Regions from separate parts of the Homo sapiens genome. Here region 1 is linked to region 2. Evidence: fine-mapped expression QTL. Tissue or cell type: whole blood. Region 2 holds a variant in brackets; the other region holds the start of a gene. All regions are shown on one strand. Distances are between the middles of the regions.

What was found. PIP is the estimated chance that this variant, and not a neighbour inherited with it, causes the effect.
Region 1: it holds the start of RELL1, and the variant in region 2 is fine-mapped to the expression of RELL1 in whole blood (TOPMed, PIP above 0.99).

Annotation. Positions count from the first base shown.
Region 1 is chr4:37,681,445-37,689,361 of GRCh38, reverse strand. It overlaps RELL1 (RELT like 1), which reads left to right and starts at 2,986. Exons shown (of 7, transcript NM_001085400.2): 1 at 2,986-3,162. The coding sequence starts at 3,075. RefSeq lists silencers at 2,288-2,597, 2,778-3,447 and an enhancer at 6,539-6,588.
Region 2 is chr4:37,588,013-37,595,929 of GRCh38, reverse strand. PGCKA1 (PDCD10 and GCKIII kinases associated 1) reads right to left here. Exons shown (of 4, transcript NM_001104629.2): 3 at 7,031-7,084; 4 at 2,420-5,842. The coding sequence starts at 7,062. The coding sequence ends at 4,930. It also overlaps a transcript of RELL1 not described here. Among named protein-coding and RNA genes, the nearest start is that of RELL1, 94 kb to the left of the region's middle. RefSeq lists enhancers at 5,093-5,593, 5,594-6,094. The variant C/T (reference allele first, on the strand shown) is at 4,379.

The DNA.
Region 1 (7,917 bases), 93 kb before region 2:
GGGCAGAATGAGGATTATTGTTTTTAATTAATGACAGTTATTCTTAAGAATTATTAAAACTCTACTTTTGTTTCTGAAAAAATGGAAATACAACTTAGTTTTAAGATTTCCATTTTATGTCCTCAGAAGAAATATGACATTCCCTTCATAATAGAGAATAGAAGTTCCATTACATTGGGGTTCTTACTTTTAAAATAAAACAGTGGATTTTTAGATATACATATGTAGAAGCTATTTAAATTGTATGAATAAATCTGTAGGGTTAAGGATATGGAAAATAATTTAAGCTTGATTTTCTTTCTTTCCTCTCTCCTTCCCTTCTTCACTTTCCTCCGTCCCTCCCCCTCTCTTCCTCCTACCCTTCCTTCATTCCTTTAACAAGACATACAAATGCATGTATACGGGGTACGTGAAAGTAAGACATTTATAGAGAGTGTGTCAAGCAGGTGTTATGGAAAGTTTAGGAAGAGAAATTTCAGAGCCCTGGGTTTCAACCCTGGCTCATAGTAGATATGTCAGGCAGATCACTTAACCATCTCTCATCTGTAAAACAAAGGGCCTGGTAGATAATGGGTAAGGCTTAAGTACTAGATTTTTATATTTGAAGAGCCATAACAGATATACAATTCAAATGTGTTGTTAAAAATGATCCCGTCTTTCTTTTTTTTTTTTCTTTTTTTCTTTTGAGACGGAGTCTCGCTCTGTTGCCCAGGCTGCAGTGCAGTGGCACAATCTCGGCTCACTGCAAGTTCCGCCTCCCGGGTTCACGCCATTCTCCTGCCTCAGCCTCCCGAGTAGCTGGGACTACAGGCGCCCGCCACCACGCCTGGCTACTTTTTTGTATTTTTAGTACAGATGGGGTTTCACCGTGTTAGCCAGGATGGTCTACGATCTCCTGACCTCGTGATCTGCCTGCTTCGGCCTCCCAAAGTGCTGGGATTACAGGCTTGAGCTACTGCGCCCAGCCAAAAACGATCCCATCTTTTTAATACTAAGTCCAATCTGTGGGAAAAGAGTGAAACATGATTCAATTTTGAAATGACATTTTACATTTTGATTAGATTTCTTGATTCAAGCATTTTGTTACATTCTAACTTACAAAACCAGAGCTGGCTTTATAAGTGTGTGACCTGTGCAACTGTGTGTTTAGGAGGGCTCCACAATCGATTTAATGTTGTGTTGTTGCCATCTTGAAATTCTTAACGATTTTTGAACAGAAGGCCCTGCCTTTTCATTTTGCATTGTGCCCTGCAAATTTTATAGCTGGTTCTGGCTACAACTTCTAATTTATAGTTTAATTTCTAGGTCCGGGATTCTCTCCTGTTTTAGTTAGAAATCCACATGGATCGCTTTCCTCCGCACACATTCTCAATGTTTATGTTGATATAAAACTAGCAAAGGCTGCCTGCTAAGACTGCCAGACTGTAGGATGCGCTGCCAACTGAGCGCAGGACGCGCAGTGCCCTCCTTGGGCTTCAAAGGGCAGGGGCTCCATCCTTCAGCCTCAGCCATCTGTACTGTAGTGGCCTGAGCTTCTGTCACTGGCAATTCCCACATCAATGCAATGTTTGTAATAATAGTCCAGCAGACTGCGTGGAGGACTCGGTGAGAGAATAAATAGTCCTCTGAAAACTAGAGGTTATCAGTCACCTCAAGGATGAGACCCATCCTGTGAAAACCCACAGCCTCCATGCACCCCCTCTTCTTGCTGGTGTTGAGTATTTGCTCAAGTCCTGCCCTAATTTCCTTCAAGCAAATGCTTGATGGCCCAGTAACAACAGTCTCTACAGGGCAGTAAAAAGGAACTATTCAGAGAGAGCCTCTGAGTCCTATTAATGCTTGTGAAGATGATTCAACTTCAGAAAACACTTCTGACCTCTTAGCGTGTGCTGTCTGTCCTCCATCCAGGCGCTGAGGGCACAGCAGCGAGCAAACACAATGACAATGAGATAATTACAATTTATCATGGTGGCCCAGACATCGTGGGTTTACTCCCTGGCCTCTAATAGTCACCTCGCAGAGCTGATGTGAGGATGTGAGGAGATAATAAGCGTCTGGGCATTGAAAGACCTACTTTGCGGGAGTATGCGCAAGGTGCAATACAAGCACACGATTAAAAAAAAAAGGCAAGTTGTTCCTGAAAATGCATAGAGGTATTTTCCCCAATAGGAGCAGCTTAAATGCAAACAAACAGAGGAAGAAATTTAAGTTATCTTTTCTGCTAATTTCCAAACAACAGAACGTGACATCCAGCACAGCATCACTCCCTAGATCTGCAACCGAGGGGAATGCTAGTGGATAGACATGCCAACAGCGAAAAAAGCCTGTGCTCACTCCAGTGCTGGCCGCTTCTGACTGTCCAGTGCTTCTCGGGGCGCGCTCCCTCTTTCTCTTCCCACGCCCGCCTAGTCCCAGCGACCGAGGGAGGTTGCACCCGGGCGACCCTCCCCCCGCCCCGGGCTCCCGCGTAATCCCGGCCCGGCTTGGAAAGGAAGCGGGCCTGGCAAGTAGAGGCACGGCCGGGCCACGGTGGGCAGGGCGCAAGGGCGGGGCTATAGCCTAACTGCGCCGCCAAGGCTGCTGCTGGGTTTGGAAAGGAAGCGGGAGAGGAGGGGTCGGGCTGAGCTGTGGGTGGGGAAAAGGGCGGGGCCATGGATGGGCCACGTGCCTTCTTAGGTGGAGTCCGGGGCTCGGTAGGGAGAGGCGGGGCCAAGCTGAGGTGGGTGGAGAAAGAGGGCGTGTCCATGGCCTAGCTACGCCGCTGAGGCTGCTGCGGGGTTTGGAAAGGAAGCGGGAATGGCAGGGAGAGGCGGGATCAGGCTGAGGTGGGCGGGGAGTCGGGGGCGGAGCCATGAGTGGACCTCGTGCCGGCTTAGGTGGAGCCCGGGGCGCGCGGGGAGAGGCGGGACCGAGCCGAGGTGGGTGTGGCGTGGGGCGGGGCAATGGCGGGGCGGGGTTCGCCGCTCCCTGGGGCCCAGCCCAGCCACTCGATCAGCCCGCCGGCTCCGGAGCGGCTCTGCCTTCCCGAGCGCGGGACGCGGCGCCCTGGGGGAGGAGGGCGAAGCGACGCGGCGATGGCTCCGCGGGCACTCCCGGGGTCCGCCGTCCTAGCCGCTGCTGTCTTCGTGGGAGGCGCCGTGAGTTCGCCGCTGGTGGCTCCGGGTGAGTGTCCGGTCGTAGCCGGGGCGCCGGGTGCTGAGCCCGGTCCCGGGAGCGCGGAAGGAAGCGAGGGGTCGGGACGGCAGCCCCGCGGCGTCCTGCTTTCTGGCACAGCCGCGGGATCCCGGCACTGAACAACTGGCTGTCCCGCGGCGGTCCGGGCAGGGCGCGGTGCGTGGCAACGGCTCCCGTCCCTCCCCTCCCGCGGGCCCCGCTCCCGCCTTCCCTCCCTGGGGCCTCCTCCGAGGATCTGTGTTCCCCAGCGCTGGGCAGTGCGGGGCGTAGGGACCAGGCCTTCTTCGGGGGCGCTTCCTCCACGGCCGCTCGCCTCGGAACCCCGCGGACCCGTTTCCCGCCGCCCTTGTCCTCAAAGGCGCCGCGAGCGGAAGATCGTGACACAGAGCACCGGGTGCGCTGTCGGCGCCTCCTTCTCCCTTTTAAATACCTTAAAATATCCTAAAACCTGGAGGACTTTGAATCTCTTTCCACGTTTCCATTTATTTGGGTGGTTGATGGATTCTTGTAACAGGTCAAGGAGTCCACATTTCTTCCCATATATCCTGTATAAATCAGGCTCGGAAAAAGGGAAGGCGCGTTGGTAAACTTACATTTTTTTCTTCTTTTTGTTGATTCCTGTCGTCACGAAAGGAACCTTGTGTGGTCAGGGCAGGAAGCCACCAACAGAGATGCTAAAGTGTCACCAACGATGAAGCAGTTTTTAATTGAAATCAATCTTAAGAGGAGGTGTAAGTTTTATGGAAGTCCTATGTCACATCCTTGCTTTTATAATTACAGACACTAGGGATTCCTTACCACCGCTTCCCCTCTTAATTGCCACCTAACAGCTGCAGTTAAAAAAAAAACATACTTACTTGGCCATTTGGGGTTACTACAGCTGGGAATCTGACGTCAGCAAGCTCTTCCAAGCTTGATTTCAGCGGTGGTTCCTCCTCAGGCCCAAATAATAAGCAACTGGAAGCCTTTCAACAGTGACTGTCTCCTCCATAAACATCCATAAACTCTTCCTCCTGAGAACATTTCAGTCGCTTACAACTTTTACACTGACTTAGCAGTTTGGCCTTCACTTTTTCATAGAAACCAGAGCAGGTTGGAAGGGAAGGAGATGGATAATATTGTCTCCTGAGTCTTTTTAGCAGGCCCGTATTTCCGTTAGCCATCCACCTGGGGAAATGGCAGCTAGTGACATGTTTTACTGGATGGGACAATTTTTTTTTTCTTTTCCTTATTTTGATACAGGGGCTCATTTTGTCACCCAGACTGGAGTGCAGTGGCACAACCTCGGCTCACTGCAACCTCCAGCTCTCTGGTTCAAGTGATTCTCCTGCCTCAGCCTTCTGAGCAGCTGGGATTACAGGCATGTGCCACCATGCCCGGCTAATTTTTGTATTTTTAGTAGAGATGGGGTTTTGCCATATTGGCCAGGCTGGTCTCGAACTCCCGACCTCAAGTGATCCTCCTGCCTCGGCCTCCCAAAGTGCTGGTATTACAGGCATGAGCCACCATGCCCTGCTGGTTCATTTTGATTTTCATCCTGCGTTTGATTGCTGGGACACATAGGTGCATAATCAGGTTCCACTTGGATGTGAGGTTGGAGACATTCATTAGAGGGTTAGAGTCAGTTGCAACAGAATCTGGGGAAGAGTTTAATCTGGGAGTAAAATTATTAAAAATTCAGCACATGATGCATGTAATTAGCCATCATCAGCAGGAGAAATCCATCCCTAGAGTGGGTGTGTGTTTGGTTTGACCTCTGAGCAACACCCAGGTCTCAGGACTAGAATGTGACTGATGAAAGCTCTCATCTAATTGCATGACAGCCTTTTTTTTTTTTTGATGAAAATTAATGCGGAAGAAGAAACAGGTGTCTAAAAAGGAAAGGATACAGAGCACAAATTTGCCAGTATCTTGAGGCGTGTGTAAAGAGAAGATGCTCTGACCAGCCAACATCTGATCCCCTTGCAACCAAAGATGGTGTTAATGTTTGTACCTTGAGCATAGGGAAGTAGAGGGAAAGGAATGGGAAATACTGTTGAGTGCCTGCTGTGTGCCAGGCTTTGGGTTGAGTACTTTGTATGCATTTTTATTTTTATTTATTTTTTTCTTTTTGAGACGGAGTCTTGCTCTGTCGCCCAGGCTGGAGTGCAGTGGCGCGATCTCACTGCAAGCTCCGCCTCCCGGGTTCACGCCATTCTCCTGCCTCAGCCTCCAGAGTAGCTGGGACTACAGGCGCCCGCCACCATGCCTGGCTAATTTTTTATATTTTTAGTAGAGACGGGGTTTCACCGTGTTAGCCAGGATGGTCTCCATCTCCTGACCTCGTGATCCGCCCACCTTGGCCTCCCAAAGTGCTGGGATTACAGGCGTGAGCCACCGCGCCCGGCCGCATTTTTATTTGTTTATTTATTTTTATTTTTATTGTTTTTTGAGACAGAGTCTTGCTCTGACTCCCAGGCTGAGGTGCAGTGGTGCGATCTCAGCTCACTACAACCTCCACCTCCCAGGCTCAAGCAATTCTCCTGCCTCAGCCTCCCTAGTAGCTGGGATTATAGGCGCCCGCCACCATGCCTGGCAAATTTTTGTATTTTTTAGTAGAATCGGGGCTTCCCCATGTTGGCTATGCTGGTTTGTAACTCCTGACCTCAAGTGATCCGCCCTTCTCGACCTCCCAAAGTGCAGGGATTACAGGTGTGAGCCACCGCGCCCAGCCTTCATAGGCATTTTTAAACTCATTGCTCATAACCCTGTGAAATACTTACTTCCAGTAAGGCAACTGAGGCAAGAGAGGTTAAACAACTGGCTGAACATCACATAGGTACTGTGCCAGTCAGCATTCAGAGAAGCAGAACCACTAGGAGGTGTCTGTGTATGTGTGTACCTTTATATGTATCTTTATCTGGGATAACCCAGCCTGCTTGATTCCAAAGTTCATTCCCTTTCCACTGTACCCCACTGCTCTGCAGAGGAAAAATAGAATATGAGTCAACCTCTGCAATCTCGCTGAGATTCTAAGATAGTTTAGAACGTCATAAAATTGTAAGCATGTGGTTATCAGAAGTTGTCAAGTAGAGAAAAGAAGGGCAGATAGCTTCACGGTGGGTAGTGGCAATGCCTTTTTCACTTCCTTCCTAGTAGAAGAATCTCATTAAACTTGTCTCTTAGCAGCAGCATTCGAAACTATATACCACAAGCACCCAAAGGGATGATTTTCCACGTCTTGGCTTATTAATGTCCTTAAGTTCTCTGGTTACTCAACCTTCAGGTTTATTAGTTTCTCTCTCAGACAGTGGGCATAGCCCTCGAGTAAGGAGTGGGTGGAAGAGGTCCTGGGGCTGGTGAGATGAAAAATGCATTGTCCTTGGGCTGCAGGCTTCCCTCCAGCATTCTGACTCCTTTTTAGAAACTAAAGATAAGCTTTATTAAATTCTGGGGTCTCTCTTAGCCAGGTAGCTGCGAAGCTGTACATCCACATAATATATAGTGTTTGGAAAGTTTTGAAAAAGCACACCTTGGAGCTTGGGAGTCCATATCTACATTTAATTTTAAAAGGAAATGAAAAATGTGAGAAGTCTCTGTCAATTCCCTGCCCCTACCCCCTCTAAAAATGGAAATGAAATGAATCTATTTGGAAATTTGAAGAGTTGAATTTGAATGTGAGAGACCAAAGCCCCAAGTGAACAAACAACAGATTTTATTGTTTCTTTAAAAATGATTCTTTGGCCCTAATGTTGAAGTTTAATGACTTATTGAAACAATAGAGAAATGATTTAAAGCTGACAAAAAGAATAAATTAAATTGTCATTGGTATAAACTATTAGGTTGAGTGGTTCCTAATAATTTCGGACACTTAAGTGGTTGTAAAGATTTGGTGTGCTGCTGAAAGCGGGTATATTAATAATTCTGGTGTGATTTATAAAAACTAAAATCAGAATTTGGTGTTAGTACACTGTAGACACTTTACTCTTTTAGGAAAAAGGAATTCAATTTTTATTATTACCTGGTTTGTGTGCAGGCGGTAGTCTAAATACCTAGATCATTTCATTCTTACAATTAATTTCCTGTCAGTTATATACATAATTTTATTCCTGTGTTTGTAGATGAGGAAATTGAGCCTCAGAGAAGTTGAAAAAGTCACTCATGTGTAAGCTGGATTTTGTCATGGAGTCCATTGAGTCAGATCTGTTTGATTTTGAAGTCCATGCTTATTATTACTAAACTATTTTTTTGAGTAAGAAAATTCTTTTTATTCTAACATATTTGTAAAGAATCAGTAAGTAACAAGGTCATGGGATGCTATGGTGGAAAGAGCACCAAGCCTTAAGTCAGGGCCTTGGACTTGAAGTCAAAAATCAGAAGGAAGCCGGGTGCAGTGGCTCACGCCTGTAATCGCAGCACTTTGGGAGGCCAAGGCGGGCAGATCACGAGGTCAGGAGTTCAAGACCAGCCTGGCCAATATGGTGAAACCCCGTCTCTACTAGAAATACAAAAATTAGTTGGATGTGGTGGCACATGCCTGTAGTCCCAGCTACTGGGGAGGCTGAGGCAGGAGAATCACTCGAACCTGGGAAGCGGAGGTTGCAGTGAGCTGAGATCGTGCCACTGCACTCCAGCCTGGGTGACAGAGCAAGACTCCGTCTCAAAAAAAAAAAAAAAAAAAAAAAAAAAACAGAAGGAGACCCTGATGCCTGCAGCATATGGTTCTGTCCACCTCCATTTCCTCACCTGTAAAATGGGCATTGT
Region 2 (7,917 bases):
TTTCCTTCTCTTCCAGGATTTTAAAGATTGAGTTCAAAATCACTAAAAAACGAGGTCGGCCAAGCTCCCCATTGCTTGGCCCCAAACATTGGTTTTCTTAAAGTTTTTGTCTCAATTTGGGATTACCGTCCTTAGGGTAACGTGGACTCATTCTAGAGACCAAACCTTCAGCAGCTGCCCAAATTCTACTCTGTCCACTTTTCCACAGACCACCACAAGCCTCATTATTCAAATAGAGCAGGGTAGTCTGAGAGTGAAGGGCCTGAATAATAAATACAATTCCTAAACTCTCAAATTCCTATGGATTTGTGCTCCCACATCCTTTATTACACCATGTATACCTTTATTACACCATGTCACAATCCAGCACAATCCTGGCTACCTGCATGATATCTCCCCAACCAGACCGGGAAAAGATCACTAACTCCAGACTTCTTTTATGTATTCTTTCAATCAACAAATATGTATTGAGTTCCCCCCTTGTGCCGTACACTAACTTAGATCTCAGGCCAAACGCATTTTTTTAGTACAGATATTTCAGTTGAAAAAAATTGCTAATAGTTGACTCCAAGTGACTAAATGTGCAGGTAAGCATCATCTACGATCAACACATTGACTTGCATAAAATGTTTCTTAAAGTGGCTGGGAGTGCTTCAGAAGTTAGCAGACCACTTAGGTGTGGTTTGTATAACCTGATACATATGAGAAACTTACAAATTTAGTAAATCTATAAATGAATGACTTATTGTTCTATTAGTTAACAGGGAAAGGATTTACCATGAAAAACAGATGTCAGCTTGTCTGTGTTTGTCACCAACTCCAAAATAGAGGATTTAAAAATGCATGAGGTTTAATCTAGAGAAAAAAAATGAAACAAGACCAGAAAGCAATTAATTTCTACGTTTTCGTCATAAAGCCTGGTTGTGTGAAAAGCAGTGCCCTTGATGAAGAGTTAAGTCCAAGTCCAGGAAAGGAGGCTATATCCTGTGCTGCAGTAGTGACTGTGCTCTATCTGCTGCATGGTTGCACACAGACGACCAAACCAGGGAAGTCAGGAGATCTTTGCACTTGCACTTGCATCTGGTGTCTCATTCATTCTTTCTAAGGCCTCCTGCTTGGAGGTACGGATGGGAGAGGTAGGAAGAGAAGAGAATCAGAGAGACAGAGCGGGGCAGAGGGAGGAAAATGACGAATGGCCAGCACTTACTGAGCATGGACAGATGGGCATGTGCTATGTAAGAAACCTAAAATTCTCTTCGTTTTTTTGGGTATCTGGTTTTTCCAGTTATAACTATTCACTACATCTGCTTTGGCAATGAGGGGAAAAAATTTAATTTCATATTTATATGATAGTTCATTTTCCCCCAGTAAAAAGTTAAATCTAACTTCTTAGCTCAAGAAACCTATATGTAATATATACATAAAATAATCTTAATTCAAAATCAGGATTTAACATGGTAAATATCCACGTGATGCAATTGCCTAAGGTTCATGGGGAACTGTGAAGTCTGCCCCTAATCACAGTTAGTGCCTTCCAATCAGAGTGCATTGTGCTTTCATATTGTCCACAATGTTTGAAAAGGTTGGCTATTTTCAACATCACTTTTCTGACAAGAGGTGGCACTAGGCTGCAGAAAGAAGACACTACACACATAAGCGTGCTCAGACAGCTCACTGTTAGACAACCTGGTAGATAAGGCTAAAAGCTGGAATTACTTTTCAACCTAAAGATTTTTTACTTTCATTTCCTTTGGGGGATCCTGGATACTGGAGTAAAGATGAAAGGGGCCAGAATTACTTTTAAAGAACTCTTGAAAGTATTGGCCATCTGTCGACCTTTTCAAAGCAGTTATTCATAAAAGAGAATCTTTAAAACTACAGAGCTGTCAGTTATGGTGAACTCTGCAGCTGTTCTAAGATGTAAAATTATATACATATATAAATGCGAAAGTGTGTGTCTGGGTAAGAGAAAGAGACTTGTCTGCCCTGATACCTTACCCTACCCCTTCTTTGTCTGAATTTCTTCTTTTCGTCCGGTTTGGAGTTATCAATGGGAAGTTGGAGCAGCGGTAGCTGTCCAGTCCTCCTTCCCCCGGACCAAAGGTGGAAGCCCCTTTGGTGTCACACTGAATGTACACACGATCTTCCAATCTTTTGAAACCAGCTGTATCCCAGGCTTTTGGGTTTTGAGACCTCCTGTGGCAGAGACTGTAAACTGACCGCCTCGAAACTCATTGTCCATTTCCCCTTCTTAGTAACTGCATTCTGAGTTTATTTGGCAAAGCCACGCACACCACTAGCAAGACGATTTCCTAGTCTCTCTTGCAGCTAGATGTGGCCAAGTGACCAGATTTTGACCAAAGAGAGTAATGTGGAAGGGATGAATTATACTTCTGTGGGGTCCTTAATAGAGAGTGAGTGGGGTTTTTATTCCTTTATTCTTTTTCCAACATGGAATGCAAATGTAATGACTGAAGCCACAGCAGCCATTATGGACTACAAAGTGATCTTGAGAAGGAAACCAAAATGATTGAAGCAGCATGGGTCATTCATATGCGGGTCATTGATACGTGGGTCATTGATATGTGGGTCATTGATACACGGGCCAGTGATACATTCTCTACCACCCTGGATCACTAACTCCAGACTTCTTTTACATAAGAGGTAAATAAGCCTCTATTTGTATAAAACACTCGTCCCATACAACTGAACATAATCTCAACTGATACACTTAGGAAATCATTGAAGGAATAAGCATTCTGAAATATTAAGTATTTGGTGTACTAAATACAAAAGGAGACATACCTCTAATGCAATTAACAATGCCAAGACTTTATCTTTTTAAGGGCTCTGAGTGACCCTGTATATAGAGGTCACTTGCGATGGCTTGTCATTACAGTACCAAACAAACCCATAGGCTCATTAAGCATTTGTAAGGGTGCCGTCCTTAAAGGTGCTGGAAGGCTCAGAAATCATGTTTTATACTAAATAATTGCCAAAGTCAAATAATGACATTATACATACTTCCCAGTTTTAGAGTTTTCAGTTGTGGGGATGTAAAAATGTTTGTTAAAGGAATTGTTTTCAACTAGTAAAACATCATTTTTGAGTGCCTAGTGTGCCAAGCACTGTGCTAAACACTTACATCATCTCATTTAACCTTTACAAGCACATACAATTATTCTTCTCACTTTACAGATGGGTAAAGGGATACATAACTTGTCCAAGGTCACATGGCAAAGCTGGAAATCAAATGAAGTTCAGTCAGATTTCAATTCTGTGTTACAAAACACCAAACTAAAGCATCTTCCATGTTTATTTTTTTCTAGATAGTTTTGAGCATCCTTAATGCCTTTAAATTCTCCATTGAGTTACGTTAGAATGGTTGTCCTTGTTTCAGTGAATTAGAAGGCTGAAATCCAGAGAGGGCTTGTTCATCTTTGAGGTAAGATCAGGACATTTAGTTATGGCATCAAGTTTGACAGAGAGAAAGCCAAAGCTATGGCTCTGCAAACCAGCTCGGTCCCTTCCTTGAGTATAATTTTGTAGTCTAGCTCTTTTTTTTTTTTTTTTTTTCATAGAGATGGGGTCTCGCTAAATTGCCCAGGTTGGTCTCGAATTCCTGGCCCTGGCAATCCTCTCACCTCAGCCTTCCAAAGTGCTCAGATTACAGACATGAGCCACTGTGCCTAGCTTAGCTCTTTTTTTTTTTTTTTTTTTTGAGATGGAGTCTTGCACTGTCACCCAGGCTGGAGTGCAGTGGCACGATCTCAGCTCACTGCAACCTCCACCTCCCAGGTTCAAGTGATTCTCCTTGCCTCAGCCTCCCAAGTAGCTGGGATTACAGGCGCCCGCCACCGTGCCCGGATAATTTTTTGTATTTTTAGTAGAGACAGGGTTTCACTATGTTGGCCAGGCTGATCTTGAACTCCTGACCTTGTGATCCACCCGCCTCGGCCTCCCAAAGTGCTGGGATTACAGGCATGAGCCACCACGCCCGGCCATCTAGATTAGTTCTTTACATTGAAAGTAACATCCAGGGTCACTGATATTCTGAGAAAATTAGAACCACCTTTGAGTTAAGACTTCTAGAAAGACACATACGTTGTTATATTTTAATTGGAATCAGACATTTAATGGCATAAAAACATTGCATATATGGCTTTGCTGTTCCGAATGTCATGAACTTAAAATCCAAATATGACATAAGCAGTTTTAAGACTTATTTTGGCCAGCCTCCCCAATCCCAAAGGAGATTTAAAAGTAATAATGTAAAAAAGTTAAGGTCAAGGTGTTTTAAAATCAACATCTCAGCTAATGACTAACCCTTTGTTTCCTGGGGACTTCTGCTCTACTGTGAAAACTGCTGAGCTTAACC[C/T]GCTGTTGAACAACTGGTTAGTTATTAGTTCCCTGGGTGATTGTCCCTGAAGTTAAGCCATGCTCTGGGGACACATGAGGCACTTTAATTGGGGTAGTTACTTTTTCCAGGTTGGGTACAATGTTTGGCTCTCAAAAGCAAGGTAAACAGTTTACAGTCAAAAGGAATGCTCTGTGATTGTGTGCCTTTGGGATCAAGGGTTGAGATCTTAGAGTATTCTCATAAACATCTGTACCAGGTGCTCAAAGATGTTTGAGGGTTGTCAAGCAAGCTGTTCAACTTCTGCATTTTCTGTGGATATGGGCACAATGACCCACTCAGATTTTTCTCCTAGTGTCCTGAATGACAGCTCATCTACACAGAGTGAAACTCCAGATATGTGACAAGCAGCATGGGACAGATGCTGACAATCAGAACAGATGCTGGATGTAAACAACTGGTAAGGCTGCACTGGTGCATGCTGGCAGAATCACCTGCTATGCATCCAGGGAGCAAATGCATCTGCATGCTCAGCATGACACCAGCTTACCTCCCTGTGCAAATCCCCTCCCCTAATCAGTCTCATCCAAATCTTCTCCTGCAGTAGCAGCTTCTAAAGCTGCAAGGGCCTCCGCCACCGCTGCATCCTCGTCCACAATCTCCCCATCCCCATCTCCATCGGAGCCATGGGTATCCTCCTGCCTGTTTCCTGAGTCAACCACAGGCATGGCATGAACAGGACCCTTCTCATTAAAGCAGATGCTTAGAACTTCTGTTTCCACATCCTCATTCAATGAATCCCAGCTTCTCCTCACAGAGAAGGGCGTATTCAAACCATGCTCCCCCACTGGGGGCTGAATTCCCTCTAGGGATTCATCCTCAGTATGGTTCTTGAAAACACAGTCCTTTTCATTATGATCAACGTTGTCTCCAGCTGGGCCCCAATGCTGAAGGTAATCTGGGGCTGGTATCTGGAAGACATGGTCTTGTACTTCCAAGGCAAAACTTTCTGCCTCAGAAGGAGCTCTGGAGTCTCCATTTCTCATGACTTGGGTCCCTTCTGAGGCCAGCAGCACACAGTCCTGTTTCCTGGTGCCCCCTCCTTCCAGGAAGGGTTGAGTTGGGGGAACAGTATTTGCAGTACTGGCCCAGGAGCCCCTGTCATCCTGGGTGGGGCTGGAATTCCCAGTGGGCTGTGGAGTGGCAGCAGGGCCGATGCCGTTGACACCGCAGGCATGGTGTTCCCCTCCAGCGTCCCCCTGTGGGAGCGGCCCTTGGTGAGGCCAGCAGGGCTCCCATGGATCAGCTGTCCTGCTGCTGCTCTCAGTCTTCTTTGAGCCCTGCCTCTGAGGGTCATTTTTCTGCACCAAGACTTCACTGCTCCATTTGCCTTTTAATTTATCAGTGTCGTCTTCATCTAGCTTGCAGCTGTTGACTTCATTGACATAGCCAGGAGAGGGCACTTGAACTGGATCAAAGAGATAGCTTCAGGAAAGACAATGAAAACCAGTCAGGTCTGCTCCATCATTAATGCTTTTTACCACAGGCCCTGCTTCTTTCTACGATTCCTGCTAATTTAATTTCTGTGATTACTTTTCAACCTAGATAAGTATGTCTAAATCAAATAGATATAGTTGGTATAAAAATGTTTGGTGGCTCACGCCTGTAATCTCAGCAATTTGGGTGGCCAAGGCGGGTGGATCACTTGAGGTCAGGAGTTCGAGACCAGCCTGACCGACATGGTGAAACCCCATCTTTACTAAAAATACAAAAATTAGCTGGGTGAGGTGGTAGGCACCTGTAATCCCAGCTACTCGGGAGGCTGAGATAGGAGAATCGCTTGAACCTGGGAGGCGGAGGCTGCAGTGAGCTGAGATCACGCCCCTGCACTCCAGCCTGGATGACAGAGCGAGACAGTCTTGAAAAAGATAAACAAGGTTCTGCCTGAAATACTCTTAAGAAGAGAGCCAAAAGGAGGAAGGAGGGGTAAGGGGTGAAGTAAAATACAAAGTGGTTCATAGAATTTTAAAATAAAAAACAAATAAAACAAATGTCCACTAACAGGGCCATAAGGAGTATATCCTCTCAGTGGAATATTATGCAGTCACTAAAATGATAAATATGAAGTCTGTAGTCACAGGAATGATACTTACAATACATAGTTTTTGAATAAAGCCAAACATCACAGTATGATTACAGTGGAATACAGCTTATTTATATATAGGTCTAGAATAGAACTATGATTAAAAAGACAGTATATTTGTTAAGAAAGCAAGATCATCAGTTACCCTTTTTCTTAGTTAGAAGTTTATGTTCACGTTACTCACAATTTTCTGAAATGCAATGTGGACAAAATTAAAAGCACATATGTGATTGGGGTGATTTATTTTCAGCGATGCCATTTCAGGCATCCTCAGAAACCCAGACCAAATTCAGCCTCAGAAAATGATGGTGTTCCCAACATGCTTTGAGAAGTGAGCAAAAAAAGTTAAAAAAATCTAGGGCACATGTTCTTTTAAATGATATTATAACAATTCCAAACTCTTAATGTGTTGGCAATGTTGATCATGCCCCAAGCTGGATAAATGCACTGAATACACGCATGGTCTTTAAAAGTGACCCCACGCTCATCACAAATTCCTCCATTTAGAAGTAGTATTTCTCCAGCTTTACCTTTGTATTATTTTACAGCACCTGCACCCCATCTGGATTGTTTTCTGTTACCACCTGGAAAAGAAAGCGTAAAAGGTAGAGAACACAGTGAGTGATATATTAGTAGGAATTAAGTTTGCCTTTTTTTTTCCCTAGAGACTCAAAATGTATTAAGAGAGTCACACATTTTGGCAAAAGGATAACTACCACGTGGGTCAGAGAGGGTGCTGGTTACCAGGAATACCCCATTTCCATCACCGCTTCAGAGTTCTCAAACGTTCACTGACACTTGCCTCTGTGTCAGACCTTTCTCCCAACCCTGGGGTTATGTGTTTCATCCCCATTTTGCAGATGAGGAGAAGAAGGTGGAAGGATGCTAGACAGAGAAGGGACTTCTGCTTTTCTAATCTGTTACCTTCTACAGAGGACACAGGAACCTCACCAGGGCACGGCCCACTGCACGCAGCAGCAGGAGGGGAAGGAGATTCTGACGGATTCCTTGCCAGGGCATTTGCTCCTCAAGAGTTAAAGGATGCCGGAATAAGCTGGCGGATCCATTGTGTCCCATGATTCAGGCCCTGAGGAGCGTGATAGCCCGAGTCATCGCACAAGCTTCAACCACACTAAATTGATTCTGTGTTGCTTTTCCTACCGCTGGGCCAATCTCAGCTATGATTTGTGGACCTGTTCTTTTGCAGCTCAAAGACATGCCCCCTTGGGCTTCCTGGCAGAAGGTGGACTCATTTCCCACTTGCCCACTGTTCCCTGACCCCTCCCCAAGCTGGGCTTTTCCCCATCATTTCCTTTGGAACAAAATCTTCTCTTCATATAAAACTGACCATGTTGGCCTCTTCCTTCCTCAGAACATCCTAAAAATGAGTATGGAAGCATCTCTTAGATATTATTCA